Linked DNA regions of Homo sapiens: all the other regions are linked to region 3. The links come from fine-mapping of genetic effects on gene expression. A gene starts in region 3. Each other region holds a variant in brackets. All regions are shown on one strand. Distances are from middle to middle.

The links.
Region 1: its variant is fine-mapped to the expression of SEPTIN11 in whole blood (TOPMed, PIP above 0.99).
Region 2: its variant is fine-mapped to the expression of SEPTIN11 in lung (TOPMed, PIP above 0.99).
Region 4: its variant is fine-mapped to the expression of SEPTIN11 in hippocampus (GTEx, PIP above 0.99).

The regions. Positions count from the first base shown.
Region 1 is chr4:76,985,876-76,993,323 of GRCh38, reverse strand. The region is part of intron 1 of SEPTIN11 (septin 11); the gene reads right to left. Among named protein-coding and RNA genes, the nearest start is that of SEPTIN11, 40 kb to the right of the region's middle. The variant C/T (reference allele first, on the strand shown) is at 3,328.
Region 2 is chr4:76,808,335-76,815,782 of GRCh38, reverse strand. LOC124900719 (a long non-coding RNA gene) reads left to right here. Exons shown (of 2, transcript XR_007058150.1): 2 at 3,554-3,855. Among named protein-coding and RNA genes, the nearest start is that of SHROOM3-AS1, 9.6 kb to the right of the region's middle. The variant G/A (reference allele first, on the strand shown) is at 3,642.
Region 3 is chr4:76,946,147-76,953,594 of GRCh38, reverse strand. It overlaps SEPTIN11 (septin 11), which reads right to left and starts at 3,843. Exons shown (of 10, transcript NM_018243.4): 1 at 3,665-3,843. The coding sequence starts at 3,691. It overlaps LOC105377294 (a long non-coding RNA gene), which reads left to right and starts at 4,030. Exons shown (of 3, transcript XR_001741739.2): 1 at 4,030-4,632. RefSeq lists silencers at 3,549-3,858, 3,889-4,068 and an enhancer at 4,979-5,058.
Region 4 is chr4:77,015,026-77,022,473 of GRCh38, reverse strand. SEPTIN11 (septin 11) reads right to left here. Exons shown (of 10, transcript NM_018243.4): 6 at 3,213-3,309; 7 at 1,804-1,972. LOC105377291 (a long non-coding RNA gene) reads left to right here. Exons shown (of 2, transcript XR_001741734.2): 1 at 1-215; 2 at 1,698-7,448. Among named protein-coding and RNA genes, the nearest start is that of CCNI, 57 kb to the left of the region's middle. RefSeq lists an enhancer at 6,667-7,199. The variant C/T (reference allele first, on the strand shown) is at 3,903.

The DNA of each region.
Region 1 (7,448 bases), 40 kb before region 3:
ATCAGAGGAACACTTCTCTTGGGTTGTCCCATCTGTACTTCAAACTTGATGTTCATGAAACTGAAATCATATTCCTCTATCCCAAACTCGCCCCTTCTCCAGAGTTCCCTATTTCTGTTAACAGTACTTAGCCATGCTTGAGACCAGCTCCCCTCCCACCATCAACTCTGAAGTCTTATCAATACTACATCCTCCACATTTCTATTCCTACTAATTCAACAGCCTCCCAACTGGCCTCCCTGACTTGATCTCACCCTCTCTAATACTTCCTCCCTCCACCTTGCCATCAAGGGGATCTCGGTACTCAAGGTCCCCAATCCAAACTCCTTGGCCTGTCATTTCAGGGCCCCATGGGCTAACCTCAAGTCTCCATTCCTACTGAACCTCCCACTTCTCCCCAGGGAGCACCTTACACTGCAGTTAAATTAAATGACCACTCTTCTTGGGACAAACCCAGGTTTCTTCCCATCAGAATTTACTCACATTATTTCCTCTATGTGAAAGGCCCTTACAGCCAGTGTTTACATATCCAAATCTTCCAGATCCCAATAAAATTATACCTCCATCATTGTCTTTATTATGAAATCTTGGGGAAAATTTCACCAAACATTCTTCTGACCAATAAAAGGAAAATACTGATTGAAAAGCTGCTCAAGCTATTTGGAATTCCATCATGATAATAACAGCTAACATTTATCCCTTCCAATGCTCCAGAAAAGCCCTAATTTCTCTCTCTTAATAATTCTATAAATTAGTTACATTGTTACCCAAACTCAATTTACAGATGAGAAAACAGAGGCACCGTTTAGTAACTTGCCCAAGGTTTCCCAACTAGTAAAGTCAAGGTGCTGAAATTGGAACCCAGGAAGTCAGGTTCCAGAGTTGTCGAACATAGTCATTGCTATCTCATGAAACTGAAATTTATCTCATGAACTGAATATTAAGTTCCCAGGTAGCCCCAGACAGCATAATTATTTCAGCTGTTATAAAAATCCAATACATTAAAATAGAAGGAAAAAAATACTCTGAAACCATGATTCTCTGGCAACCTTAAGAGGTGGAAATTGAGAATTAGAACTGGCAAAGTAGCTCCAAGTATATTTTCGCTGATCCTGGCAATGCCAAGACCAAATATGATTTTTGTAGTGATGGCACATGAAACCTATAATATAATGCTTAGTTTTAACCATTTTTGAAAAGAAAGTGCCAACACAGAACCACTAAGTAAGTAACTATAAGACCTTAATTGATTTAGCCCTGCATTTGCTAATCTACCTAGTAAGGATTTGTAATTAGGTAATTTCTATAGCCCACTCCATCTTGAAATGGATTATGACTAACCTTTATGGTATAAAATAAACTTGTTTTTCACTTGACAATTTCACTTTTCTCTTTTTAGAACATATCCTCTTAGATACAATTATTTATTTGTTCATTCAAAAATACCCACTGCTCAAAGCACTAAGAAAGCTAAAATAAGTTATTTTTATAATTCATTGAAGAACACTGCAGTTCCGACCCTTAAGAGGTTTTACAATGTAGTAGTAGAGCTAGGACAGATGTAAATGTAGGACTATGAAGGATAAAAGTCATCAATACCATGGCGTCAACTACGGGAAGGCATGGAGGAGAAGTAGTTTTTGTCTAGGGAAATTCAGGGGGTACCTTTTAGGAAAGCTAAAGTTCCCCAAATCTATCAGTGAAACAAAAGCCCAGCTTGCAGAACCCTTCTGGATAAATGTTTCTATGCCCAAAAGGTCACTTTCTTATGAATGTATACCTGAAGTGTATAACTGGTAGTTTTTCAGAAAATTCCCAGCTGACTTCATTATTGAGATAATTATAAAACAAATTATGTAAGAATGTGTGCCACCACCTACATTCTGAGCGCTGCTGTAAAATATGTTCCACAATTCCAAATCTTGCTTCACCAGAGAAGGGCAGCAAAAGGCTTAGAGTCAGACAGACATGGGTTTGAATCCCAGCTTTGCTTTCTACTTGCTTTAGTCTCTATTCTGCCCTCAGTAAAAACAGGAAGAGGTGCTAGGCTCTCTCATACATATCTCCTTGGCAGGGTTGTTGGGAGGAGATAAAGAGGTATGGATGAGAGTGCCTAGCACTTAACAGGTCTTCTGAAACTTGGACTTCCTTTACCTACAGTAGTTGGGAGGAAGAGGCAACTATCATTTAAAAATCTGAAATTAATCAGAAGTTCTATTACAGCTGCTAGGCATTCCAGGAGAAGCTGCTGACCAGCAGGGCTCTCGGACATATGAATAAGGTAAAATCACAATAAAAATAAAGTGAACAGAAAGAAATAAAAAACGAGAATGATGATTCTAGCCTGAAGAAAATCCATTCCTAAAGAGAAAACTCATTTACAAAGCTGGAGGAAAAGCCACAAAATCACATTCCTGTTTGCAGAATCAGCAGTTAGCAGAATCCACATCCTCCCCAGCTGGGAAGCATTCTGGATTCCCCATCACTTTTGCTTCTGCAGTCATGCACCACTTTGTGATGAGGAAACATTCTGAGAAACATGCCAGTAGGTGATTTTGTTCTTGTGTGAACATTCTAGAGCAGTGGTCCCCAACCGTTGTGGCACCAGGGACCAGTTTGTGGAAGACCATTTTTCCACGGACAGGGTTGGTTTGGGGATGAAACCGCTCTACCTCAGATCTTTAAGCATTAGATTCTCATAAGGAACGCACAACCTAGATCTCTCCCATGCACAGTTCACAACAGGGCTCAGGCTCCTATGATAATCTAATGCCTGAAGCTGATCTGAAGGAGGCAGAACTCAGGCGGTAATGCTGACTAGCCCATCACTCGCCTCCTGCTGGCCAGCCCAGTTCCGGACAGGCCACGGACTGGTCTCAGTTGGCAGCCTGGGGATTGGGGACTCCATCCTAGAGTGTACTTGTGAGACGTGAAGCCAGCTGGCCTTCCTGGGTCGAGTGGAGACTTGGAGAACTTTTCTTACAAGAGGATTGTAAAACACACCAATCAGCACTCTGTAGCTAGCAAGAGGATTATAAAATGCACCAATCAGTGCTCTGTAAAAACACACCAATCAGTACTCTGTAGCAAAAGGATTGTAAAATGCACCAATCAGCACTCTGTAAAACGCACCAATCAGGAGGAGTCTAAAAGTAGCCAATCGCGGGGAGGATTGAAAAAAGGGCACTCTGATACAACAGAAACAGAACATGGCAGGGACAAATAAGGGAATAAAAGCTGGCCACCCAAGCCAGCAGCGGCAACCCGCTCAGGTCCCCTTCCACGCTGTGGAAGCTTTGTTCTTTTGCTCTTCACAATAAATCTTGC[C/T]GCTGCGCACTCTTTGGGTCCGTGCCACCTTTAAGAGCTGCAACACTCACCATGAAGGTCTGCGGCTTCATTCTTGAAGTCAGCAAGACCACAAACCAACCGGCAGGAACAAACTCCAGATACACTTACACAAACCTAGATGGTATAGCCTACTAGACACTTAGGATATATGGGATAGCCTATTGCTCCTTGGCTATAAACCTGTACAGAATATTACTGTACTGAATGCTGTAGGCAACTGTAACACAATGGTAAATATTTGTATATCTAAACATAGAAATGGTACAGTAAAAGTGCAGTTTTATAATCTTACAGAACCACGGTTGTATATGCGGTCCATTGTTGACTGAGAGTTTGTAAAGCAGTACATGACTGTATTTTAATCCAGCCCTGGGTCTACTGAAATTAACAAGCTCGGTGTGCCCAGATGGATTTTATTCACCATACTTAAACTGAAGTGATATCCCTTTTCTTTACTTTTAAAAATGAAGTGTTTCGGTAGATGTGGTTAGATAGGCCGTAGCCTCTGATCCTTATCAGCAGGCGGAAGCAAGACAGCATGTTACCAAGGTGATATTTGAATTGTTTAATCCAAACAAATTAAAATTACGTTTCCATTCGAAAGCAATATTTAATTTTTACCTTTAAAATCAGGTATTACAATTTAAGTTTAGAAAGATTTTTCTCTTTAAAATTTATTTTTTTTTAAATTTAAGAGATAACATTTATGTATTCAGGTGGAGAGCTGGAGATTTTTATTAACAAGACATGGTGATTACATTTTTCTCAACGCCTCAGATTATGGATAAATAAAGTATACTGATCCAAGTCACTTAATCCTCGGGCTTATGTTTCCTCCTCTGTAAAGTGAGGAGATTTAATCAAATTACCTCTAAACAAAGTCTCTGGTTCTTTGTTTTTTCTAATTCTAAGGCTTCTTAATCTGGATGTTAGAGATGCATAAATCCAATTCCGTCATTTTGCTTAAGGAAAGCCAACACAGGGTGAAAAATTCCTGGAAGCATATTTGCTCTGGCCAGATCAAGATGGCTCAAGTTTTAATTGACCCATGAAAGGGAGTTTCTATCAGTTATGCTGGGAAACTCCAAACCAAATGGAAATCTGTGTGCATAACCTCTGTGTTTTCCACCTCAACTTTTAATTTCTGCTTAACTACAATACATATGAATTAGCTAAGAAAGTTATGTACCCACTGTTTACAAATGCCCTGCTTAAAAGCAATTTCTTTTTGTTTGGCTACATCTCCAGTCATCCACGAGATTTTTGAAAAGTGGATTTATATCCTCAAAACAAAACCTAGGGCTGGGCGCAATGGCTCATGCCTATAATCCCAGCTACTTGGGAGGCTGACGCAGGAGGATCTTGCTTAAGCTCAGGAGTTAGAGGCTGCAATGAGCCAGGATTGTGCCACTGTACTCCAGCCTGGGTGACAGAGTGATATACTTTATCTCCAAAATAAAAAAACAAACAAAAAACCTAGGAAATGACTTCTCTGTATAAGTTAGTTATCTGTTCTCAAAAAGAAAAGCAAATCTTTATTCATGCTTTCATTCATTCAGCAAATATTCATCGAGTACCAGTGTGGGTAGAACACTGTGTTAAATGCTAAGGATACCATGATGAAAAAACAAAGCCTCCCCAACTCATGGAGCGTACAGGGTAATGGGGCACACAGATGTCAATCAAATAGTCACAAATACATAACCATAAAGCTATCCAAAGGACAGGATGCTGTGTAGCCTTATAACTCATGTGATTAACTACTCATTCTTTGAGTGAATTCACCAGCCTATAGTATGTAAAAATATGTATTAGTCCAAAGCACTGTTGAATATTAATTTAATAGGCGGCCCCTGTGTACAGCTGATGTGCAGGTTTCACATATTCAGATGAAAACAAATAGTCTTTCTGAGCAGCAGTACCTGATGGGAGAAGGTAGAAATATCAGAACTCAGGTTTCAAGGGAACAGATGTCCAATTTTAAAGAGAGCTGAGATGAAACCATGGGGCAGCAGAGGGCAGAGGAGACATGTACAGTACACTCCTTTGAGCTCTGTCTTTTCTCCTTACAGAATACCCACTTGGAAAAGAGAAGAAGTACATACCCCTTCATCTTAGGTCATGTCTTTTTCTGAGGTCCTATTTCAGTAGTACAGACGCCTCTGAGCTGAAGAGAGGTAAAGAAAAGAACATGCTGTCTCGCACACAAAATCTTTGACTGACCACCAGCCACCTCCCAGTATCTGGAGAAATTCTGGCCTCACGAACTGTCCGCAAAGTAAGTTTTATTTAAGTACCCTGATTAATCATTTCTGTAGATACACACTCTTATCTGACTGCATTCTAGAAAGTATTGAATTGGTTTCACATTCTCTTTTAAAAAAAGAAGGTTAATGGGAAGATGGGAAACGCCCTTAGTTCTCATGCAAAAGGGAAAACACTGGAATGCAAAGTTTTGACCCAAACCACAGCTATGAAGCCAGCATCGGGATGCTTTCAAAGCTAAGCATTGCTGGGGTAACTTTCATAATATAAAATGTCTGGACCATCTCATTACCAATGAGAATTGCATTCTTTAAAGATGATTTGAACAACATTTGCTACTCTGCTTGTCATCTATACCATGAAATCCCATGCCTAGAGCCAAGAAAACCCCCAAGGAAATTGTCTCACACAAGCAGCAGAACAGAGAGCGCCAGGCGGCAGTGAGGAACTGTTAAGAGAAAAACCATATGGTAATACAAGGAAAGAACAACTTCTCAGTGCGGCCCAGCTGGAAGCTGAGACTAAGGAGGAGCATCCAGGAGCCAGCCCCTAGGTCACAAAGCCAGGTAGATAAGCTCAGAATGCCAAACCCAGGGAGCCACTCTGGAAAACATATCATATAACCAAAAAAGCACTTGATTAATACTGAATAATTGTCCCAATTCCAAGTGCTATCTCCAAGTAACTTTCTCCAGAAGACTCCCAGTAGAGGAACACATTTTGCTTTTCCAGATCCTTACAAAATTAATGCCGTGTGGGGGTTTTCTTTGGGGCTGGTAAGATTTTCGGGAAATGTTACCTTTTAATTGTTTTGTTTCTGTAACATTTGAATTATTACAAAAGAAAAAAAAGCTGTAGTTTTATAATAGAAAATATATAAGATTTTTAAAATCCAGGAACATCAATAACAATAATACTAAATAAAGATCTTTTTTGAGGAGGTAAGCCCACAATATTTATTGTAGCTAATAGGTAGGTTAACAGAGTAAAATAGGAGAACTTAATTTTTCTAATAGTAGAACCAAGTCATGTTGAAAGTGACAGGAGGAATCGGAAAAGTGGAAAAGTGTAGTGGAAGGTGCCCAACATGTGAAGTCAAGACAAGAGCACCTCTTTCATAGTTTAGCTGTGTGACCTAGGGTATTTAACTTTGCCTCAGTTTTGTCAGCTTTAAGACACATTCTCTCACAGGGCTGTTGTAAAGAATTAATTAACATATTTATCTTTTGTCAGCTCATTTTACACACTTTTCTTGCCCATCCTTGCCCATGACTTTAATAGCCAACCATAAGCTAACAACTCCCTTTGTCATGACCCACACAGCCCAATCTCCTCTGCTGGGCTTCCTACTGTACAGCATGGCCCAGGCATCTCTAAGCCAACATCTCGGTGGAACTCAGCCTATCCCCATTCTCAATTCAAATAAGTCCTCCTATTTTTTTCACGCCAAATAGCAGCAATGTCTACTTCAAGGTATAAGAGAGTCCCCCAGAATAACATGTATTAGCATGCATCTGATAAAATCTGCACAGTTATAGACCTCCACCCTCTTGCAGGAGAAAAAAAGCCCACTGTTTAATCAGCTTAAACCCTCCCCTATCCTCTGAATTGGACAGTGAAGACTTGAAGTCATCAGTATCATGTTAGCTTTTCTCCTCTGTGCCCTGATGTATACCTCTAACATTTGCTGGTCACCCACCACACTCTTTTCGGCCAAATTTTTCCCACTCTGCCCTTTGGACATAACTACAACCAGTCTACTACCAGCTGGTTTCCATCCCTAAGCCCTGAAATCCAATGACTAACTTTGATATTTCTCTTAACGCTGCCCTCAT
Region 2 (7,448 bases), 140 kb after region 3:
ATGAAAGAAATTGAAGAAGACACAGAAAAATTGAAAGATATTCTATGTTCATGGATTGGAAGAATCAATATTGTTAAAATGTTCATACCACCCAAAGCAATTTACAGATTCAATGCAATCCTTATCAAAATACCAATGTCATTCTTCACAGAAATAGAAAAAATAATCTTAAAATTTCTATGAAACCACAGAATACCCAAAAGAGCCAAACCATCCTGAGCAAAAAGAATGAAAGTGGAAGAATTTCATTACCTGACTTCAAATTATACTACAGAGCTATTGTAACCAAAACAGCATGGTATTGGCGTAAAAACAGACACATATACCAGTGGAACGGAACAGATAACCTAGAAATAAATCCATACATCTATGGTGAACTCAATTTTGACAATGGTGCCAAGAACATACACTGGGGAGAAAATAGTCTCTTCAATAAATGGTGCTGGGGAAAGTGGATATTCATATGCAGAAGAATGAAACTAGACCCCTATCTCTCACCATATACAAAAATCAAATAAAAATGGATTAAAGACTTAAATCTAATACCTGAATCTATGAAACTACTAAAAGAAAACATTGGGGAAACTCTCCAGGAAATTGGTCTGAGCGAAGATATCTTGAGTAATAAAAAGCACAGGCCACCAAGGCAAAAATGGACAAATGGGAATATATCGAGTTAAAAAGCTTCTGCACAGCAAAGGAAATAATAAACAAAGTGAAGAGACAATCCACACAATAGGAGAAAATATTTGCAAACTATCCCTCTGACAAGGACTTATTAACCAGACTATATATGAAACTCAAACAGCTCTATAGGAAAAAAAACTAATAATCTAATTTTTAAAATGGACAAAAGATGTGAATAGATATTTCTCAAAAGAAGACATACAAATGACAAACAGGTATATGAAAAGTTGCTCAACATCATCAGTCATCAAAGAAATGGAAATCAAAACTACAATGAGATATCATCTCACCCTAGTTAGAATGGCTTATATCCAAAAGACGGGCAATAACAGATGCTGGCGAGGATGTGGAGAAAAAGGAACCCTCATGCACTGTTGGTGGCAATGTAAATTAGTATAATTGCTGTGGAGAACAAGTCAAAGGTTCCTTAAAAAACTAAAATAGAACTACACTATGATCCAGCAATTCCACTGCTAGGTATATATCCAAAATAAAGGAAATCAGGATATCAAAGGGACATCTGCACTCCCATGCTTACCGCCAGCACCACTCACAGTGGTCAAGATGTGGAAGCAACCTAAGTGTCCATCAATGGACAAATGGATAAAGAAATGTGGTACATATACACATTAGAGTACTATTTAGCCATTAAAAAACAAGGTCCTATCATTTGTAGCAACATGGATGGTCATTATATTAAGTAAAATAAACCAGGCACAGGAAAGACAAACTTCGTATGTTCTTACTTGTTTGTGGGAGCTAAAAATTAAAACAACTGAACTCAAGGCAATAGAGAGTAGAAGGTTAGTTACCAGAGGCTGGGATGAGTGGTCAGATGTAAGCGGGGAAGAGGGGATGGTTAATGGGTACACAAATGCAGTTTGAAAGCATGAATAAAATCTAGTATTTGATAGCAAAATGGGGTAATTACCGTAAACCATAATTTATTGCATACTTAAAAATAACTATAAGAGTATAATTGGAATGTTTGTAACACAAAGCAATGATATATGCTTGGGGTGATGGTTACCCCATTTACCCTGATGTGATTGTTATACAGTGTATGCCTAGATCAAAATATCTCATGTATCCCATAAATATATATACCTATGTACCCATAAACATTTAAAAAAATTACCTAAGAGACATAAATAGGCTGGCTCATGCTGTAATCCCATCACTTTGGAGGATTATTTTAGGCCAGGAGGAGTTTGAGACGAGCCTGGGCAACATAGTAAGACTCAGTCTGTTAAAAAAAAAAAAAAAAAAAAGACATACAGCATCCAGCTGAAAGCTTGTGTTTCCAAAGCTCCTCAATAGCTAGTTTCCTGGTTTTGTTTCTTTGAAAGTATCCGACAGCTATTCCAATGTTCCCTTTACATGAATAATATTCATTATAAAGAGCTACCGTTTATCAAGCACTTACTCGAGTAGATAATAATTGCATTAAGAGTGTCGTTTAATGCACTTTGGGAGGCCAACAGGGGTGGATCACTTGAGGCCAGGAGTTCGAGTCCAGCCTGGCCAACATGGTGAAACCCCCTGTCTACTAAAAATACAAAAATTAGCCAAGTGTAGTGGTGCATGCCTGTAGTCCCAGCTACTCAGGAGGCTGATGCAGGAGAATAGCTTGAACCCAGAAGCGGAGGTTGCACTGAGCCGAGATCACACTACTGCACTCCAGCCTGGGCAACAGAGGGAGACTCTTTCTCGAAAAAGAAAAACAAAAAGAAAAGAAAGAAAAGAGAAAAGAAGAGTCTCACTTAGTTTTTAACTTAGATAAGCAGATACAATTATGCCCATTTTACAGATGAGCAAACAGAGCCTCAGAGAAGTTAAAACAGACAACCTTAATTCACAAGTCAATAAGCCGCAGTTATAGGATTATAAACCAGGTTTGAGTGAATCTGGAGCTCCTGTCTTTAACCATTACAATTTATTGACTTACTAGCTTCTCCACTTTTCTTGTCTTTGTTGTTGTTGTTTTTTGTTTTGTTTTTTTGGGACAGGGTCTAGCTCTGTCACCTAGGCTGAAGTGCAGTGGCACAATCATGGCTCACGGCTCACTGGAGCCTCAACCTCGTGGGTTCAAGTGATCCTCCCACAGCAGCCTCATGAGTAGCTGGGTCTACAGGCCTGCCACTATGCCCAACTAATTAAAAAAACATTTTTTTTTGTAGAGACAGGGCCTCATGATGTTGCCCAGGCTGGTTGCAAACTCCTGGTCTCAAGTGATCCACCCACCTTGGCCTCTCAAAGTGCAGGGATTGCAGCTATGAGCCACTGTGCCTGGCCTGCTCTACTTTCCAATGCCACTTCTTTCTTTCCTCTTCCTCCTCTCCCTTCAATATCCCTTTTCCTACCAGTATCTTTAACTCTAAGCTTTGAAAGCATCTATTTTGGAAACTGCAAAGAAAATAAATCTGTTGGGATGCTCACCACAGACTTGGGGCAAGTCATTAGCGTGGGAAGGGGAAGTGGAGAGGGGGCACAGGGAAGTGAGGGGCTAACAGGTTGCAGGAACACACATCTGAGTGTGTTTGCTGCACCCCATCATCTTTCCCAGACAAGAGGTGACAGATCCATGGAACAGGCTTCCAGAAGAGGGGAGCTCCCCCTCAGCTTTTCAGCTTCTCATCCTCTGGATTCTTCTTTTTTGACAGTGATGTTTTCCACCCGAAATATTGTCTGGACTGCGGGTCGGCCGAAGGCGGGAGGGAAAAGGGGCCCAAACCGGAAAGGGGGGTGGGGGGAGGAAGAAGAAGCAAAAAAGAAAAGCAGCTGGAACTCGTCTCCTGGGGACCAGCCAAGGAGGCCCAGGCCCTGGGAAATCTGCTTGTCTCCTGCTAAGCAATCCCTCTCTCAGCTTCCTTTTCAGTCTGTGTGACCCCCGACTCAGACCATGTGTGGCAGCTCCCAACAGCAGGCACTGCAGATGTCCCAGCAGAGATGGA[G/A]ACCCCCACTGGGAGAGGAGACCTGCTTCCAAGCTGTGAGGAGCCAGCTGCCAAAACTTACAGATGTCCTTCCAAGTGTCAATGTTGCAAATCAGAAAAAAAAAAAGTCCATGGGTATGCATGACTCCAGCCAGGAGGGCAGTGTGGCCAGCAGATATGTGGATTCTTAGTGACAGAAGGATAATAAAAGTACTGGACTTGATAGAAAGAGGAATTTTAAAACTTCAGCACTCTTATTTCTGCAGGATTCTGGTCTCCAGATTGCTCAGCAGAGGGTAGGCGCCCTCGTGGAGGGAAGGGAACCAGGAAATGAGTTTCATTGAATGAATGTGGGGGAGAGTGAAAGAATTCTCTACGGAGGGTCTTAAAACCATTCCGGGCTTGTTTTAAATTTAGAGAAAATTAAGTCATTCTGCAATCATTTTAGGGCTGTGCATGAGGTCAGGAGAAACTATTTTGGAAAATAGATTATATCATGTCACTTCTCTGCGTAAAACCACTGGGAACTTCCATTAGAATAATGGAAGCCAGGCAGAGCAGCATGCTCCTGATCCGAGCTACTCAGGATGCTGAAGGAGGAGAATCCCTCCCTTGAGCCTAGGAGTTTAAGACCAGCCTGGGCAACATAGCAAGACCCTTTATTTTTTATTTTTATTTTTTTTGAAGAGTGAGTCCCGAATGCCCCGCCACAACCTGCAGACCTTCCTGGCAGACCCTTGTCTATATTTCCCGCCTCATCTCCCATTCAGTAGACTCCCCACATGCTGGTCTTCTTTTGATCCTGCAAGCTCCAAACTCAGGCTCTTTATTGAACCCCTCAAAGGGAACCTGCTGTTCTCTTTTCCTAGAAAAGTGGTGTTCCTGGCCTTAGCTTACGAAAATGCTTTTCAAACTACAGATCATAACCCATTAGTGGGTGGTGAATTAATTTAGTGGGTCACAACTTACTTTTCTTTTTTTTTCGAGATGGAGTACCGCTCTGTCACCAGGCTGGAGTGCGGTGGCACCATCTTGGATCACTGCAACCTCTCTCTCCCAGGTTCAAGCCATTCTCCTGCCTCAGCCTCTCAAGTAGCTGGCATTACAAGCATGCACCACCATGCCCAGCTAATTTTTGTATTTTTAGTAGAGATGGGGTTTCACCATGTCAGGCTGGTCTCAAACTCCTGACCTCAAGGGACCTGCCCGCCTCAGCCTCCCAAAGTGCTGGGATTACAGGGATTACAGACGTAAGCCACTGCAACTGGCCCATAACTTATTTTTCTAAAAAAAAAATGTGTACATGTATATTCTGGATACTGTAAAATAAATTTCTTGCTAATGGGTCTTAGTTCATAAATGTTGACAGCCAGTGGCTTAGGAGTTGGTGGTGGATAATTCAGGCTTTGTTTTTTGTTTTTTGTTTTGAGACAAGGTCTCATTCTGTTGTGGAGTTCAGTAGCATGATCTCAGCTCACTGCAACCTTCACCTCCTGAGCTCAAGCAATCCTCCCACCTCAGCCTCCCAAGTAGCTGGGACTATAGGTACATGCCACCACAGCTGGATAATTTTTGTATTTTTTGTAGAGTCGGGGTTTTGCCATGTTGCCCAGGCTGGTCTTGAACTCCTGAGCTCAAGCAATCTGTCCACCTTAGCCTCCCAAAGTGCTGGGATTAAAGGCGTGAGCCACCACGCCAGGCCTTTTATTATTTTTTTCCCCTAATAGTGCAGAGGCACTATAACCAATGTTTGATAGAAGTGAATTGCACCTGGCCTCAAAGATCATTAACCAGCTTAACGAATTTTTGGTGTCCTATGTAGTGGAAGAAAAGAAGTGTGGGAGTTAACAAAATGAGCACAAATTCTTCCCTTCCCTGCTCTCTTGCCCTTGCAGTGTGATTGCAGCTCCACCTATCATGAGATGGACTTTATTTCTCGATCTCTGGAATCTGGGCCGAGCTTGTGACTTACTTTGATCAATGGAACAGGTAGCAAATATGACACAAGCAGAAACTTGAAAAGTCCTAGCACATTAGGGCTTGCCTACTCTTCCTACTCTTGAGAATCCCGTAACAACCACCTTATTTATAAGCCTCAGCAAGCCTGCTGGAGAACGAGTGACACGTGGCCCTGTTACCCCACTGCCCTAGCTGACAGCCAGCACCAACCACCAGACATGTGAGTGAGGCCATCCTAGGCTAAGTGCCCTCAGCTGACCCACTGATGAATTGCAAACACATGAGCAAACCCAGCTGGGATCAGCCAGGCCTGGCCCAGATCAGAAGAACCAGCCACTTGACCTGCAGACTTGTGAGTAACAATACGTGACTGTTGTTTTAAGCTACAAAGTTTCAGGATGGTTAGTTATTGCATCAAAAGCTAACTGATACAAGGAAAATGGGAATGGAAATGGAAGTTAAAAGAGGAAATAGATGAAGGCCAGGCACCCTGGCTCACACCTGTAATCCCAGCACTTTGGGAAGCGGAGGTGGGTGGATCACTTGAGGTCAGGAGTTCGAGACCCACCCTGGCCAACATGGCGAAACCCTGTCTCTACTAAAAATACGAAAAATAGCCGGGCATGGTGGCGCACACCTATAATCCCAGCTACTCAGGAGGCTGAGGCATGAGAATAGCTTGAACCCAGGAGGCGGAAGTTGCAGTGAGTCGAGATCATACCACTGCACTCCAGCCTGGATGACAGAGCAAGACTGACTCAAAAAAAGAAAAAAAAAAAAAAAGAAAAGATAAATGAAACAGATGTGAAAACGGAAGTTACAGTGAAATGAGAGGCTGTTGGCAATATTTATCCCTTCTCTCCAGGCCTACAGGGAGGCTGAATTCTTCGTCCTGCAGAACAGTAGGTCCATTCCTGAATCTCAGGGATGGTATTTCAAAGCCTAGCTCAATGTCTAACTTGTAGAATTATCCTCAGTAAATATTTGTTGAATAAATCAATGGCTTGGAGATAATTTCTTCCCTTTGAATTGTAAGATAAAGCTTGGAAATTGGCTAGCAGCTTCCAGTCTCCATGTTGTATACATTTGTGATTGACATAGTTTGGATATTTGTCCCCCCAAATCTCATGTTGAAATGCAATCCCCAGTGTTAGATGTGGGGCCTGATGGGAGGTGTTTGGGTCATGAAGGTAGATCCTGCATGGCTTGTCCTTGCAATAGTGAGTTCTCAGGAGATCTGGTTATGTAAAAGTGTGGCACCTCCCCCCATCACACTCCCACTCTCACCATGTGACACACCCATTCCTGCTTCACCTTCTCCCATGAGTAAATGCTCCCTGAGGCCTCCCCCGAAGCTGAGCAGATGCTGGTGCCATGCTCGTACAGCCTGCAGAAATTGAGCCAATTACACCTCTTTTCTTTATAAATTACCCAGCCTCAGGTATTCCTTTCTAGCAATGCAAGAATGGCCTAACACAGTGGTATTAATAGGAGCGTGGCTATGTATGGGATGCATGATTAAAAGTTCCACAGCAGGCACTGCTGTTTAGTCAACCCAATATCCTTTCCTAAACTCCCATTTCCTTGTCATGTTTTACTACAGAGGCTTGGAAAAGTTAATATTCCATTTTCCAGACTCCCTTGCAGCTAACAATGGCCAAATGATGAAGATCAATGAGATATAAATGAAAGTCTGCTGGAATGTTGCTGGAAAAAAATTTGCTTTTCTAATAAAAGCAGCTCTGGGGCTGGGCATGGTAGCTCACACCGGTAATCCCAGTGCTTTGGGAGGCAGAAGGAGGAGGATCACTTAAGGCCAGGAGTTTGAGACCAGCTTGTGCAACATAGTGAGTCCCCCGTCTTTATAAA
Region 3 (7,448 bases):
GGCTCCATTCATGTTTCTCCAGGCACACCGACCACAGCCATCCATCTGGGGCCACATTTTCAAGTCACAAAAATGGCAATTTTATAACAAGGGAAAGTAACATTTTATTGGCAGTACTCCTCCACTTCCCACACTCCCTGCCCTCATCTTTAAGAATTGCCTATAATTATCCCCAGACAGATATGATCCTTCACCTGAATCATATTTGCTGAGTCAGCAATAGGCATATAATTCCTTTTCTCCCTAAATGATTTACACATTTACACTGAAGTCTGTCACTTTAATACACCAAATCTCTCAAACAATAAAGCTCCTGGTAAGAAGAAAACTTGTCCACTGCTATATCCCCAACACCTAGAACAAGTTCCTGACACATAGCAGGTGCTTAATAAATGGTGTTAAATGAGCAAATGGAAACTTGGTTTTCCATTTCCTTCAGCTCAACAGATAAAACAGCAATTAAGTGCATTTCTTGAAGGATATCATAGGGAAATCTCCACCACCAGTGAAGTTTAAACACATATTTTTTGTTAGGGATAAAGTAAGAAATATTTCTGCACTGGGGAGCAGGCTAACCCAAATGACCTCTAACGTTCCTTTCAACTCCTAGAGTTTTTAAACTGATGAACACCACAGCTTAGGAGAGGCCATCAGCTACATAAAGCCTGATTCCCAAGTAGAGTAAATTGCCATGTTCTGTTTAAAATAAAGATAATAGCTGCCCCGGGATTTGGACGCAAAAATGCTAATTCATCCAAAATGCAGACACATCCCTTGGGAGTAAAATGTTCTTGCTAATCATCAGTTATACTAGGCAAACAGCAGATGTGCTTCAGGGTCTTCTTAGGGCTAAGCCCAAAAACCATCAGTGGGGAAATGGAGAAGCTAGGGATCAAAATTAAAACTGAAATAAACAGTATCACACTAAATTGAAGCTTTGTTTTGCAGTCAACAACAAATCCACTTAAGAAACTTACCTGAATTTAGCCTTGAGGTTTGAATGGTTTGTAACAGAATATAACCATTTCATAAGATAGAAAATAGTGCATTTGACATGTAAGCATTTTTGCCCACTAAAATGTCATATTTACCTGGGATATCACACTCAGATGTTCCCATTCAAGAATATCAAAAATTTAGGGTAAGTTATTCAGATTGCATTTTTCTTCAGTCTGGCGGGGAGAGGTAGTTATCGCAAAAGGAGATATATGTCCTAAATAACTTTTTAAAAAATCTAATTAAATACCTAGGGAAATTCCATTCACACATAAATCAACTTCGGAGTGGTTCTTTTCCCTCAGCGCACCCTTCCTTTCTTTTGGTGAAATCACAGACTAGATAAGAAATGGGAGGGCCAGAGAACTCTTAACTTTAAAGGTGCAGTGTAGATTCCATGGAGCTGTGTCTCAAGAGTCTTCCCCATTCATTGACTTTGTTTTAAAGCCATAACTGCAGAGACCACACTTAAGACAATAGCCCAATGAACAAAGTGAAAGGATTCAACAATTATCTGTGAAATGTGATCACATATTTTCTGTAGACTTTCTAACTTTATAGTCAATTCCTAATCACTCGTACATTAGGTTTCCAAAAGAAAAGTCTTCTGTCTTTAGATTGTAATTTAATTTTAATTCCAGTGACAACAGAGTGCGCAGAAAGAAGTCACTTCCTCTGTGCACGTATACTTAAAAAAAATCTCCTCTATTATCTGAAGAGGGAGGTCTAACATAAGAATTCTGTGGGATTAAGCTCACATATGGTTGGCCGACTTGGTGTTGGATGTGATTACGGCCACACAACTAAACCTTAAATCCACATACTGTTCCTATTTAACTGACATATATGAACTAATTTATAGAAAATGTGCAGCTAATTATTTCTTCCACCTCCTCCATCCCTCAAGAATGCACCAGCAATAATACGTGTTACTGAAAAAGCCAAACACCCCCACTGAATATTTGCAATCCTAAACGTTTGCCAATTTATCTAAAGCAGATATTGTTATTTTAGTTCTCTGAATCTATGCCTGCTAATAAGTATAATGGGGGGCAGGGGGAGGAGTAATTTAACCAGATAAATTTCACCTCTATAGACCTCAATTTTCTCACCAAAAATAAAACGACTAGCCCAGAGACTATGCAAATTCCCTCAGTAACAATAACCTACATGTGACCACTAATTATCAAGAGCACAATTTATGTGCAAAAGAAGACCAGAATTCTTAAAAGAGCCATGTCATTAAATCGTAGAGTTGAAAAGGCCTAAAAGACAGTCATGATTCGATATGACCGCTGTGTTTTCTGACTGCAGAAAACGTCTTTGAAAGCACCGCGGGCAGCCGAACCACCAAATCGAATTAGAATCCGCAAAGGGACCCATGAACTTCTCCCGAGGGGGTAGGGTGCAAAAGGCGCGCGTATCTGGGGAGGAGTTAGGCGGGGAGAGGGGGAAGAGCCGGGAGCCTGAGAGCACAGCCTTGCATTTCTGGGATTTCCGAGCTTCCAGTATCTCAGTAAGTCTTTCGTCTGTAACTACAAAATCTCCCGAGCCACCACCTGCAGCTGCACAGCTGTGGGAAAGGGAAGAAGAAAAAGGGAAGAGGAGGTGATAGACAGGGAAAGACATCGCCCGAGGCGCCCCCAAAGCCAGTAAGGCGAGTGGACTGTGAACATCGACGATGAAAAGGGGAAAGGGAAAACAGGAGGACTCCGCCTTTCCCACCCAGCTCCGCTCCTTTCAAAAAAAAGGAAAGGCCGCCGCCGCCCCTTCCTCCGCCTTTCACTTGGGGATGCGGAGCGGCCACTGAACCGCACCCTCGGAGTCCCGCTCCCCTCCGGCCCGGCCCCGGGGCGCGGACCGAGTCTTGCAACCCAGTAGGCGCGGCGCCTTGGCCCACACACTCGGGGCAAAGGTATCTCCTCCCTCCTACTCTCCTCCCTCCCGCCGTGGGGCACTCGATTCTTCACGCACCCGCCCGCCCTTCCTCTTCCTCGCGTCCCAGCCTCCTCAGCCCGCCGCCCCCGGCCTTTCAGCCGCAGAACATTTCAGTCCTTCCACCCACACCACAAGGGAGCCTCCAGAAAACTTTGTGTGTGTTATCTGGGGCTTTGTCCACATCCTGGGCAGGGCCCGCTCAGCCGGGTGGATGCCCGAGGGTGTCCGGGATCTCACAATGCGCTGGGGAGGCCACCACGGAAATCCCACCCCTCTGACCTGCTTCTACAGCAGTGCCACACGCAGCACTTCAGCTCGCAATTCCCATGCCCTGAGCGCCCCCTCGGCGCGGGGGAGACTGGAGGAAAGCCCCGAACCCGGCGCCCTTCTGGCTGTCACGAGGGAAGAGGTGCGCGGGCAGAGGGAGGCGGCTGAGACACGCCGCGCCTCAAAGAATTATTTTAAAGGGAACAGGAGAGGGGTCCTTTTTCTTTCGCATTCCCAGAAGAGGGGCGCGACGAGGCGATCCACTGTTGCATCACGTAACTGAGCCCCTGGGCTCCTAACCCCGACCCCAGACGCGCGCCCAAATTCGTGCACACACCCACAGCCGTCGCCGCCGCCGCGGGGCCGAGCACCCGCCCGGCTCCCCTGTGGTCCTCACCGCACCCGCCCCAGAGCAGAGACCACCCGGCGCCCGAGGAGCAGCAGGCGAGGCCCCAGCACTCACAGACGGTCTCCCCACGGCCACGGCCATCGCAGCTGCGGCACCGGCTCCGGCTGCGCCCGGGTGCTTTACGCCGACTCCGGCTGCTGCTAGTGCTCGGGCTCCGGCTCGCCTCCCTCGCGCCTCCCTCGCGGCTGCGCTCTGCTCGCCGGCGTCCCGCTGGCAGCCAGCGGCATCTGCTCCCCCCACGCCGCCGCCCCTCCCGCTTTATTAGAGCAACATGGCCACCCGCCTGGAAGGGACCATTCGCTTCCCCAGGAAGGGGTGTGAGCCTGCGCGCCCGGCCGCGGTGGTGGGCGGGAGGATGGTGGGCGGGCTCCGAGCCCAGCTCCACTGGCCCCGGCCGCGGGGCTCGCCCCTCCGTCCCCAAACGACCGTCTCCGCTGCCATGAGATGCCGACAGCCTGTGCGCTGGCCGCCACCCCCTGCTCCATCAGGTGCTGGAATCTGAGTAAAAGCCTGGGCGCGAGCTCCCAGCCCCGGGGCCTGCCACCGGCTCCACGAAGCGGGCAGCTCCAGCGGCCGCCGGGAGAAGGAAGGGCGACCGGGGGAGACGGGTCGCAGGGACAGCACGTGGCGGAAAGTTAGCCCCGGACTAGCACGCCCCACCCGGAGAAGCCGGCCTGGAAGGGGCTGCGGACCACCAGGCGGAGCGGTGGGCGACCGAAGTGCGGCTGGGCTGGCCTCCTCGTCTCCGCACTGGAAGAATTGCCCTTCCGCAAGTCTTCCCTTCCCACATGGGGGCCCTCCAGGCCGCACCTCGGTCGCCCACCGCTTCCCTTGAGAAGGGAGACTAAAGACAGGCATCTGGAAGCTGTCACTGTGGCGCGCGGGCAGACAGGGGATCCCATTGGAGAGGAAGAGCCGTAGTAGTCGCTGCTGCCTTCGGCCGACCCAACGGCCGCCTGCTTGGGAGGAAGAAAAAGAACGCCCCCGCTGAAGAATTAAGGCAGCCATTGGTTGCTCTAGGGGTAAGGACCGAGGCCTCCCCTGGGTGTCACTGGAGCAGCCACACGTGGGGGATCAGCCGACTTCATTCGATCGCTGGCGACAGACCCGGCGACCCGTAGGAATGCGCGCTGGGGCTGCGGCTGGAGGGCGTGGCGACGGCAACAGGCGGGTGGCTCGAGTGGGTGCGACTCTGGGCGCGTGGGACTGAGAACTCCTCCGCCGTGGGGAAGATTTTTTTCCCAGCAGATGTTGGGGTGTTACTGCGTGTCTGAGGGGCCGGCGGAATGGAGGGGTCCCGGTGCGTGCAGGGCAGCGAGGTGTGTCAGATGAGCTGTGGATCCCTGCGGCCCCACGTGGGCCGGAGAGGGGGGCCCACGACAACAAGCGATTGAGGACAGCGATGGACAGGGCGGGGAACCAGCTGGGTGGAAGCACAGGGAGTGTGGTGAGGAGGGAAGGGCTGTGATCTGCCCTCGGTACGACGCCCCAAGGGACAGCCTGGCCTCCTGAATTAGGGAAAAGACAACCGGTCTCTTTAGACGGGCGCCTCAGAGTCTGACCTGAGTCTTCAAACGCCCAGATCCCCTGGGGCCTTGAGTCTCCCTGTCCCGCTGGCCCTGCCTCGCCTGCGCTTCAGGACTCCGACGCCCCCGCAGCCTTGGGCTAAGGGTCAGTCGTCCCCGGGCGCGGGTCCGGCTGCCCTGGAACTGATGCTGGATTTCGCTGGTAGGTGGGCTAGGGGCTTGGTCACCCCGTCTGAATTCCACTGTCAGGACAGCTGTGGAACCGCCAGAGAAAAGTCTGGCCATGAAAGAAAGGTGAGGGGCGCCGACGCAGAGCTTATTTATTCAGTCTGTGGGCGGACTCAGACGTGCAGAGCACCAACCTCTTCAATTTCTGCCCTCTAGACTCCAAATCTTTTGAAATTAGGGACCACCATTTTATGCCAAACATACAGTAGGCGCTCAATAAGTGTTGAATTAAGATTACACATAAATGGGCCGGGCGCGGTGGCTCACGCCTGTAATCCCAGCACCTTGGGAGGCTGAGGTGGGCCAACATGGTGAAACCTTGGCTCTAAAAAAATGCAAAAATTAGCCAGGCATGGTGGCGCTTGCCTGTAGTCCCAGCTACTATAGAGGCTGAGGTGGGAGAGTCGCTTGAACTCTGGAGGCGGAGGTTGCAGTGAGCCGAGATCGCGCCACTACACTCCAGTCTGGGTGACGCAGTGAGACCCTGTCTCAAAAAATATATAATAATAAGATTACACACAGATGGGTGCTGTGCAAAGGGAGGGGGAAGACAAATACTTTCTTCTGCAGCTCTGGTACATGGACATTTTGTCCTTTCTCCATAAGGAGGATCAGACAGCAGCAGCACTGCCCATGGACCAGAGGCCTCATGTAAGGCCTGGGAAAAGAGGGCTCCACACACCACCAACCGGATGTAAGGGCAGTTGCAAAGGAACTGTGTTATCTTGACCAGAACAGACTGTAGAATTTGTTTATCAAATTTTTTTTTTTTACTTATTTATTTTGTGAATGTATATGCTGTAAACTCATCTGCTTAGATTGTAAGAATGTGAATGCCCTACCTTGGTGGGTAGGTTAGTTTATTCTAATCAGCAAAACTTAACGTTACATATTCCAACATCTCATTTGGGATGTGAAGATGCTATGGGGAGGGTGGGTATCCTGGCATTGCTAGAATGTTGGAGCCTTAGCGAGAGAGTGGCAGAGTGGGGAGAACCTGGCACTTCAGCTACAGATGATCACTTATGAGCTTTGTTATATCAAATAAGTTAAACTTTCATCTCATTTTTTTTTTTTCTATTGTAAAATAGGGTAGTAACAGTGAGTCCTGGGGGAGGACGTGTTCTGTTAGCCAGATCCACTCTCCAACCTGCTGTCTGTCCTTTGGAGCCTTAACTCAAGAGACTTTCTTTCCCTCTAGCTTCCAGTTGAGTGAAGGCACTAGGAAGCAACAGCGATGGAACAAAGAGGAAGGAGTATGGTTATTTATTCCCCCCTGGCTCCCTTACTATGGCACCATTGCAGGCTGGTTGCCTCCCTCAACCAAAGGAAGCAGCCAGTATCCCTCCCTAGGGTGACCCAGAGTAAACCCCTATGGTTTCCCTTCATTTTGCACATACCTTTGCAGATAGTCTTTTTATAAAACTCTACTCACATTATCCAGTAGGAATGAACATCTCATTCCTTCACAGAATTGTTTTGAGAGTTAACTGAGAAAATACTGTATTATTATTATTAGAATGACCTATAATTTCTGTCCAAACTGAGAAACTTTTGAGGCTGGGAAAAGGGGGTTTGTGCTGATAGTAATGATGTCAGGACAATAGGAAAAACAAGGACTTATGGCCACCCCAGCTATTATTGCCAGTAAACTCTGCTTTAGACATATTAAGCAATCAAGAAGTGGTCGTACTATCACGCTTCTGTCACTAGACTATGAATGTCTCAAGGTAAGAGTGCTTTTTTGTCTATTAGCTTCTGTCACATGGTCTGGTATATTCAATAAATTTTGAGTTGGAGATGAGGGTAAAGACTAGGAAATGAATAATTTTTATTGCCATACTAAGGTAATGAAGAGTCAAGGAGGTCTTTAAGCAAAGAAAATTTGCATTTTAGAAAACAGCTATAGTGAATATTTGGCATTGTTAGTAATTTAGGGTCTATTCCCTTTTTAATTGAACCCCAATTTATTTGGAGAGCTTTTCCAATGAATGTTTCAACTTGGTAAAAAGTAAATGCCTCTTAAAAAAGAGGTTCTGGGCCAGGCGTACTGGTTCATGCCTTGTAATCCCAGCACTTTGGGA
Region 4 (7,448 bases), 69 kb before region 3:
GAACCTAAAATATTTACTGTCTAACCCAGTATGGAAAAAAATTTTTTTTTACTGGATCTAATTATTCCCTGATCTGGATCAGCTCCTCATTTCACAGATGAAGAAACTCAGGCCCAGATGGGTTAAGAACTTGTAGCGTAGCAGGACCAAGAACTGAACCCAAACTCCTGACTCCTAGCCCAGTGCTCTTCAACACTGTCTGGATTTGAATGAAGGTGAGGGGAAAATGAATTCAATTTTATGGCAGTTCCTTTTGTTCCATATCTCTTTGCATGAAAACAAATATTTTATGTAATACTGAAGACGGCCTTTCCCACACAGAAACCATTTCATCAGGTTTAGTAACCATAAAGTGGACTTGATTTTGTAAGGATTATTTTCTGGTAAATGCATTTCAAGGTTCAATTAGCTAAACCTGTGTACACAAAAAGGTGTCCTACACCTCGCCTCAGAACATGACTTTCACATGGTTGGAGATGGTCAGTTTTGCAAGCCGTCAGGGCAGAAGTGAATGATGCAATCTTGGCTAGAAGTTAACTTCTTGGTATGCCCCTTGTCTGGGTTCTGCATTTGTTCTCACTGCATACACACATGCTCATGGAACTCCTCAGCAGCACAGTGCCAGGCGACAAGCCCAGGCATTCCTAAACTATCTCTAAAGCAATTGCAAGAAAATAAACTCCCTCCTACAGACCCACGGGGACAGAATCTGCTGTGCACAGGCTGCCTCCGGTTCTATTGTCAGCCAGCTTGTAGACATCAGAGTGTGTTGTAGGCCAAAGAGGAGAAAGACAGGTTTTTTTTCCCCAAGGAACTATGGCCCTCAGTTTGTAAAGGCACAGAGCCCAGACACACCTCACACCACCTGAATTCAAATCCCCATTAAGAAACAGCTTGGGGGCCAGGCGCGGTGGCTCACGCCTGTAATCCCAGCACTTTGGGAGGCCGAGGCACTCCAGCCTGGTGACAGAGCAAGGCTCCGTCTCAAACAAAAAAAAAGAAAGAAAACTGCTTGGGCACCATCTGGACAATCCTCTCCTCGACCAGGAGGTGGTGAACCTGGCCTGGCAGCCTCACCCCACAACTTTACCCAGAACCACCCCATGACTCACTACGGTGTGGGCAACAGCACCCCAGCCTTGCCAGCCCTATCCCTACCACTGGATTCTGACGGGGTCTGGGCTTCGGCTAGGATATTAATTCTACATCCATTTCTCCCCTTCACATTTTGCGTCTCCACCCGTCAGTGATATAAGAAAATACATAGATCTCCTAAAAGCTATTCTCCTTTCCTCCTGATTCTTTGTTGTTAGAATTTTACCGAACCACTGAAAGCTAATAGTAAAAGTGCTTGACAAAGGAAGAGCCTCCGGAAGTTAAAGGTGTTTGGCAAAAATGAATGGGGCAAACTGTAATCAGCAGCCGCACCTTTGTAAATATATCGACCAGGCTCTGCACCTCTGCAAGAGAACTGGCAGAAACCTGGGCTCAGGACCCAGATGGCAAGAGCTCAACACCACACCATTGTTTACTACTTGGAGGACCTTGGGCAGTTTGTTTACACTTTCAGTGCCTTTGTTTCCTCATCTGTAAAATGTGGATAATAATGACATCAACTAGGTAAGTTAGTTGAGATAATGCAAATAAAGCAATTATCACAATGCCTGACAACATATGTATTAATCTTCACCCACCAGATCCTTCCATCATCACCATCTCAATCCAGCAAGCATTTCTGTGATGTACCACCATGCCACTCTCGCCACTGTCTGGGAGACACCTGATTGCTAGATGCCTTCATACCTGAAGGGTTTGCTGTCAGGGTCAGTGTCCTTGAACCCCATCTCTTCAAGCTTACAGCGTCGGTACAATTCATAGTGGCGGGTGTGAGTCTGCTCTCGCAAGTCCTCCATGTTCACGCGGATCAGCATCTCTCGAAGTTTCACAAAATCGCAATGATTTTCATTCTCAACTACAAGAGAGGGGGGAAATGGCGGAAGTGGGATTAGCAATGATGTCACTGAAATATCTGCAGTGATGCTTCCAAGATGTTATTACCATCACTCCTGAAATCTCTGGGGTCTCAAGACCATCTGAAGATCCTTTACTGGATTCACCTTACATTCCTGACGAAGACAAGATTTCTGACAACATTGACCATAATACTGATGACAACGCTGACTGCTGAGTGCCTACTCAGCACAGAGCACAGAGGGAGGAGCTTGAAAACAAATATTGTCTTTACCCTTCATAATAACTCTGCCAACTAGATGTCATGACTCTTGCTTTGCAGACGCAGGAGCTTGGTGAGCAAGCTGACCTCCCAAAGAGAGGTAGCAGGGTCTAGATTCAAATGCCAGAACATCTGGCCCAAAGCCAGATGTATTTGTACCACTCCATGCTGTCTATAACTGTGCAGGGCCACTTTTACATACCACTTCATTTAATTTTATCAACAACACTAGGAAGAAAGGAGTTTTCTTATTGTAGAGAAATTAGTAAGAGTAAGAAAAATTGTATTTTTCCCAGGGATCTCAAAGGTACTGTTTCTTCTCACAGCTTTATTGCCTTTATTCAAAACAGAGGAAAAGGAGGTCTGATACATCTTAAACCAGCGAAGAACTTTCTTTAGCCATCCTGCTTAATCCATAGCACTGGATGTCCTCCTTCAGAACATAAGAGTAGGTCATAGAGTCCTTGTCATTCAAAGTGACACACGTGACAAGCTTTCAGGTTAGACTGTGGCCATGTCCCACAGTGCCAAATATAGATCAAATATTCTCCTAAGTCTCAGATTTACTAAGATAACATTTTATTAGAAGACATTTTTTGCATAGTTGATGGAGAAAAAAGTACCCTCTTGTTTGCAAGAAACTTTTTGCTGCTTTTTAATACTTGGCTGATGAAACGAGCTCCAACTCCTAGGGAAGAACTATTTTTCAATCAGGACTTTATATTAATTCCCTACACAACCCAGCATCCTTGAGGGGTTACCTCAAGGGCTTGGCAGCCATGTCTCTCCATTGTCTACCTAGCTGATTACTTTTTCTTTCTTCCTCACCTCCACGATTGTCACATGTGGAGCCCCACCACTCCCTCCCACTGCCAGCCCACTGTTGAGGGCCTCCCTAAACAAGACGGAAAATGAACAAACACGGCCATTCACATAGGGGCTAAATATGAAGACTCCATCTCCCATGCTGTGCACATACCCTGCACCACACCCCAGGGGTACTGCCTGGCCTTTGCCATCTTGTTGCCAATCTTCACCTCTTCGGTGCTGCCAACCACTGCAAATGGGAGATGGACCTGCCAAGCAAAAGGACAGAGAATAGTTACTTTCCCCTGCTCTGACAGACTGGTTTCCACCAGTCTCTATCTTCTCCCTCCTTCTGCAGGCCTCTACTTGGTGACAAGGGAAAAGCAGGCTGCAGTTTGGTGGGTGGATGTCACGTATCCCACCCCCCTTATAACCAAACACTGAGTATGAGACACGAGCTAGATTCAAGGGAAAAGTGTATGAGTCTTTGCAACTATAAAGTAAGCTTAAGACTTGTGCTAGCCGATGCAGTAGCCACTAACTATATGTGACTGTTGAGCACCTGAAATACAGCTTGTAGGAACAAGAAATTGAATATCTAACTTTTAATTAGTTTACATCTAAATTTAAAATGGAAGCAACGTAAAATATTTTTCAATTAAATGCAACTTTATTGTTTTGGCAAAACTGCATTTCACTTTGCTTCAAACTCAAATCTTCTGAAAAAGACCAAGGTAGATGGCAAGGTAGACACAAAGATTAAAGATAAAGTATCTTTTTGGCACTTATTTCATATTGAAAATCTTTAAGGTATGTTAGGAGAAACCTGTATGTAAATTTAACTTTTTAGCTGTGAATTTTA[C/T]AAAATGTAAATACAGATAAAATATTTTTGGTGAAAATTCAGTCCACGATGAGATATGCTGTCATTGTAAAATATACACTGGATCTCAAAGACCTACATTAAAATATCTTTTTTTTTTTTTTTGAGATGGAGTCTCGCTCTGTTGCCCAGGCTGGAGTGCAGTGGCGCGATCTCGGCTCACTGCAAGCTCTGCCCTCCGGGTTCACGCCATTCTCCTGCCTCAGCGTCCCAAATAGCTGGGACTACAGGCACCGGCCACCATGCCCAGCTAATTTTTGTATTTTTAGTAGAAACGGGGTTTCACCGTGTTAGCCAGGATGGTCTCGATCTCCTGACCTTGTGATCCGCCCGCCTTGGCCTCCGAAAGTGCTGGGATTACTCCGAAAGTGCTGGCGTGAGTCACCGTGCCCAGCCTAAAATATCTAATAATTTTTATATTGAATACATGTTGAAATTATATTTTGCAACATATTGGGTTAAGTCCTTAAAATTAATTTCACATTTCTTTTTACTTTTTTAAGGTAGCTACTAGAAAATTTTAAAATACTTGTGTGTCTCACATTATAGTTCTATTTGAACAACACTGCTTTAGACAGTTGACTATTGCACAAATTTCTAAGTCCGAAACACACTTTAGCCCAAATTACTGGCTCAAGCTATGCACCCAGATTTATCTGAAGTAGAGATGGTGTCCAAGACAACTGACTCTTTCACATTGGTTTATTTGGTAGTTATCACTGCATTCTGAGTGAGGGAGGAAATAATAATCCTATCTTTTTTCTATTAGCATGTAAGAATAAGATTTGAAATAGCTGCTCCAAGAATTATTATTTAGAGTTCCTTGATCCAGTGTTCTTCCACCATAGATACACTGAGAAAGAAGATAAAGTTTTCAAGCCAATTCCTCTCCTACAAAGAACTTGGCATAATCATTGGCTCAGATTGCCCAAGTAGCATTTTGTTGGACGCTCAAGATATTGAAATGTTCTAGTTCATCTCACACCCTAAGAAGGAAAGAAAGCACATTATCTTTCTCAAACAAGTCTGAGTTTCAGACCTGAACCCTATTGTTTCCCCTGAAGTTGAGGAGCAACAGGACCTTTCTGGTCAATATTTTGGTGTAATGACCAAGGAAATTTCTCCACTCAAATGTAACAAAAGCAACTGCCAGTGGAATCTGTTTTCCTCAGACATTACGTGGAATTTGATCAGCAAGAATAGTTTGTAATGAAGAGCCTAAAAGAAAATTTCTTTAAAGAGCAGGATTAATTTGGAATGTCAGAGATTCAGTTCTATTAATCTGATAAAGAGAGAAAGAGAGCAAAAATTCTTGGGTATTTTATTTCCAATAAGTTTAACAAAGATATAGTTCCATGACTAGAAAATAATGAAAAATTATCTAGAAGGATAGGAATATAAAGAAAAATTACATAGCAGTCATTCATGATACTTCCTGAATCCCACACTGACATCCCAAATTACAGTTCTACAGCAGAATAAAGGAGTGCCATCTCAGTTTGAGATTTTGACCTTCCTATAAAAAAGTACAGACCTCCTGCAGTATCCACAGGGTACCGGTTCCAGGACTGTCCATGGACACTGAAATCTGCAGGTGCTCAAATCTCTGATATAAAATGGTATAGTATTTACAAATAACCTATGCACATCCTCCTGTATACTTTAAATCATCTCTAAATTACTTATAATATCTAAGACAATGTAAACACTATATAAATAGTTATTATACTCTATTTAAAAAAATTTTTTTTGTAGAATTTATTTTTTATTTTCTTGCTATGTTGACCAGGCTGGTCTTGAGCCCCTGGCCTCAAGTGATCCTCCCTCCTCGGCCTTCCAAAGTGCTGGGATTACAGGTATGAGCCACTGTGCCTGGCCATATATATATATATATGTGTATATATATATATATATATATATGTGTATATATATATATATGTGTATATATATATATGTGTGTGTATATATATGCTATATATATATTTTAGCATATATAATATATATGCTATATATATTATAAAAACAATAATACAAAATATATATATATGCTATATATATACACATATATATATATATTTTGTATTATTGTTTTTATTGTTGCATTTTTTTTTTCCAAATATCTTTGGTCCATGGTTGGTGAAATCCATGGATGCCGAGGCTGATGGTACACTGCTCTGCTCGGGCGGCAGTACACAGGGTGAGAGTGTAGCCTGACAGCCAAAGCCTGGGTTCCAATTCTACCTCCACTACCCACAGCCATGCAATCTTAGGTGCTGTGCTGCAGTCTCCTCATATATGAGGGAGGAATAATAACAGCACCTACCTATGCAACTGTTGTGAGGATTAAATGGAAAGTCTTGAACAGTTCCTGGTGCATAGTAAATGCTCCAGAAATGTGAAAAATGTCAGGTGCTATTATTATTATGTAGCTCTCAATACCCACAACCAGAGAATTTTAGAGGTGGAAGAGATCTTGCTTATTATACGTTCAATCCTGCTTAAGAATTCCTGCTACAGTATCTCTTCCAAGTGGACTGAAACAGGGTCTGTTATCTACAAACCACTGGCGATGGGAACTCACTACTTCCCAAGAAGTAAGGTGTATCTTCCATCTCAGTGGCTCTACTAGTTAAACACTCACTTCGTAATGGGACCAAAACCCCTTGGTGATCTTTTGTCCATTCATTCTTTTGCACAAGTCTAGCCATTTTCCCTTGTGGCAACCTTCCTTTCACACCCCATCATGCCTATTTCCTGGGAAGAATCTGCTTTCCAGATTCTTCCAACAATTCTAGAGCCTTTACTACTTTGAATTCCAACAACCATCACTGGGCCTCCACTATATGCAAAGCATGTGGCTTTCATGGATGTTATGCATTCCCAAAGGGAAAAAAAGATGTGCAGAGTCATTGCAGCTCACAGCTGAGCTATGGGCTGTGAGACACACAAAAGAGTAGTGAAACAGACTTGAGCATCAACCGGCAGGATGGAGACTCACCAGGAGGGATTACATCACAATCACACAGGGAACCACTGTCACTTTAATCATTTATCACCTGACTAGTTCCTCTCTGTGATGTGGAAATTGTATCCTCAACTGCCAGTTTACCTAATGATTAGAAAAGTATAGGGAAAATAGAAAGGAGGGAAGGGCAGGATCCAATCACCAAAGCAAAATTGGGACAAGCTAATGTATTTCTGCCAAGATTGGTAGAAACAAGCACAGATCTATTTCCTTTGAGCTGCTTTTTATGAAATGGTACTGGGCTGGCATTTCCTTCTCACAAGATTTGCTGTAGAAATCGTAACTGTTAGAGTGGGAAGGAAATTTGAGATCATCTTGTCTAAAGCTCCCATTTGACAGATGGAGAAACGGAGGAGCAGACTGGTTAAATGACTTGAAGTGGTGGCAAAGCTGGACTACAGCTGAAGTCATCAGGTTCCTAGTCAGTCCAGTGCTCCAGCCACTCTACAATGCTGCTACTAAGACAGGCGTTCATAAAAATCACTTGTTCCCATTTGACTTGA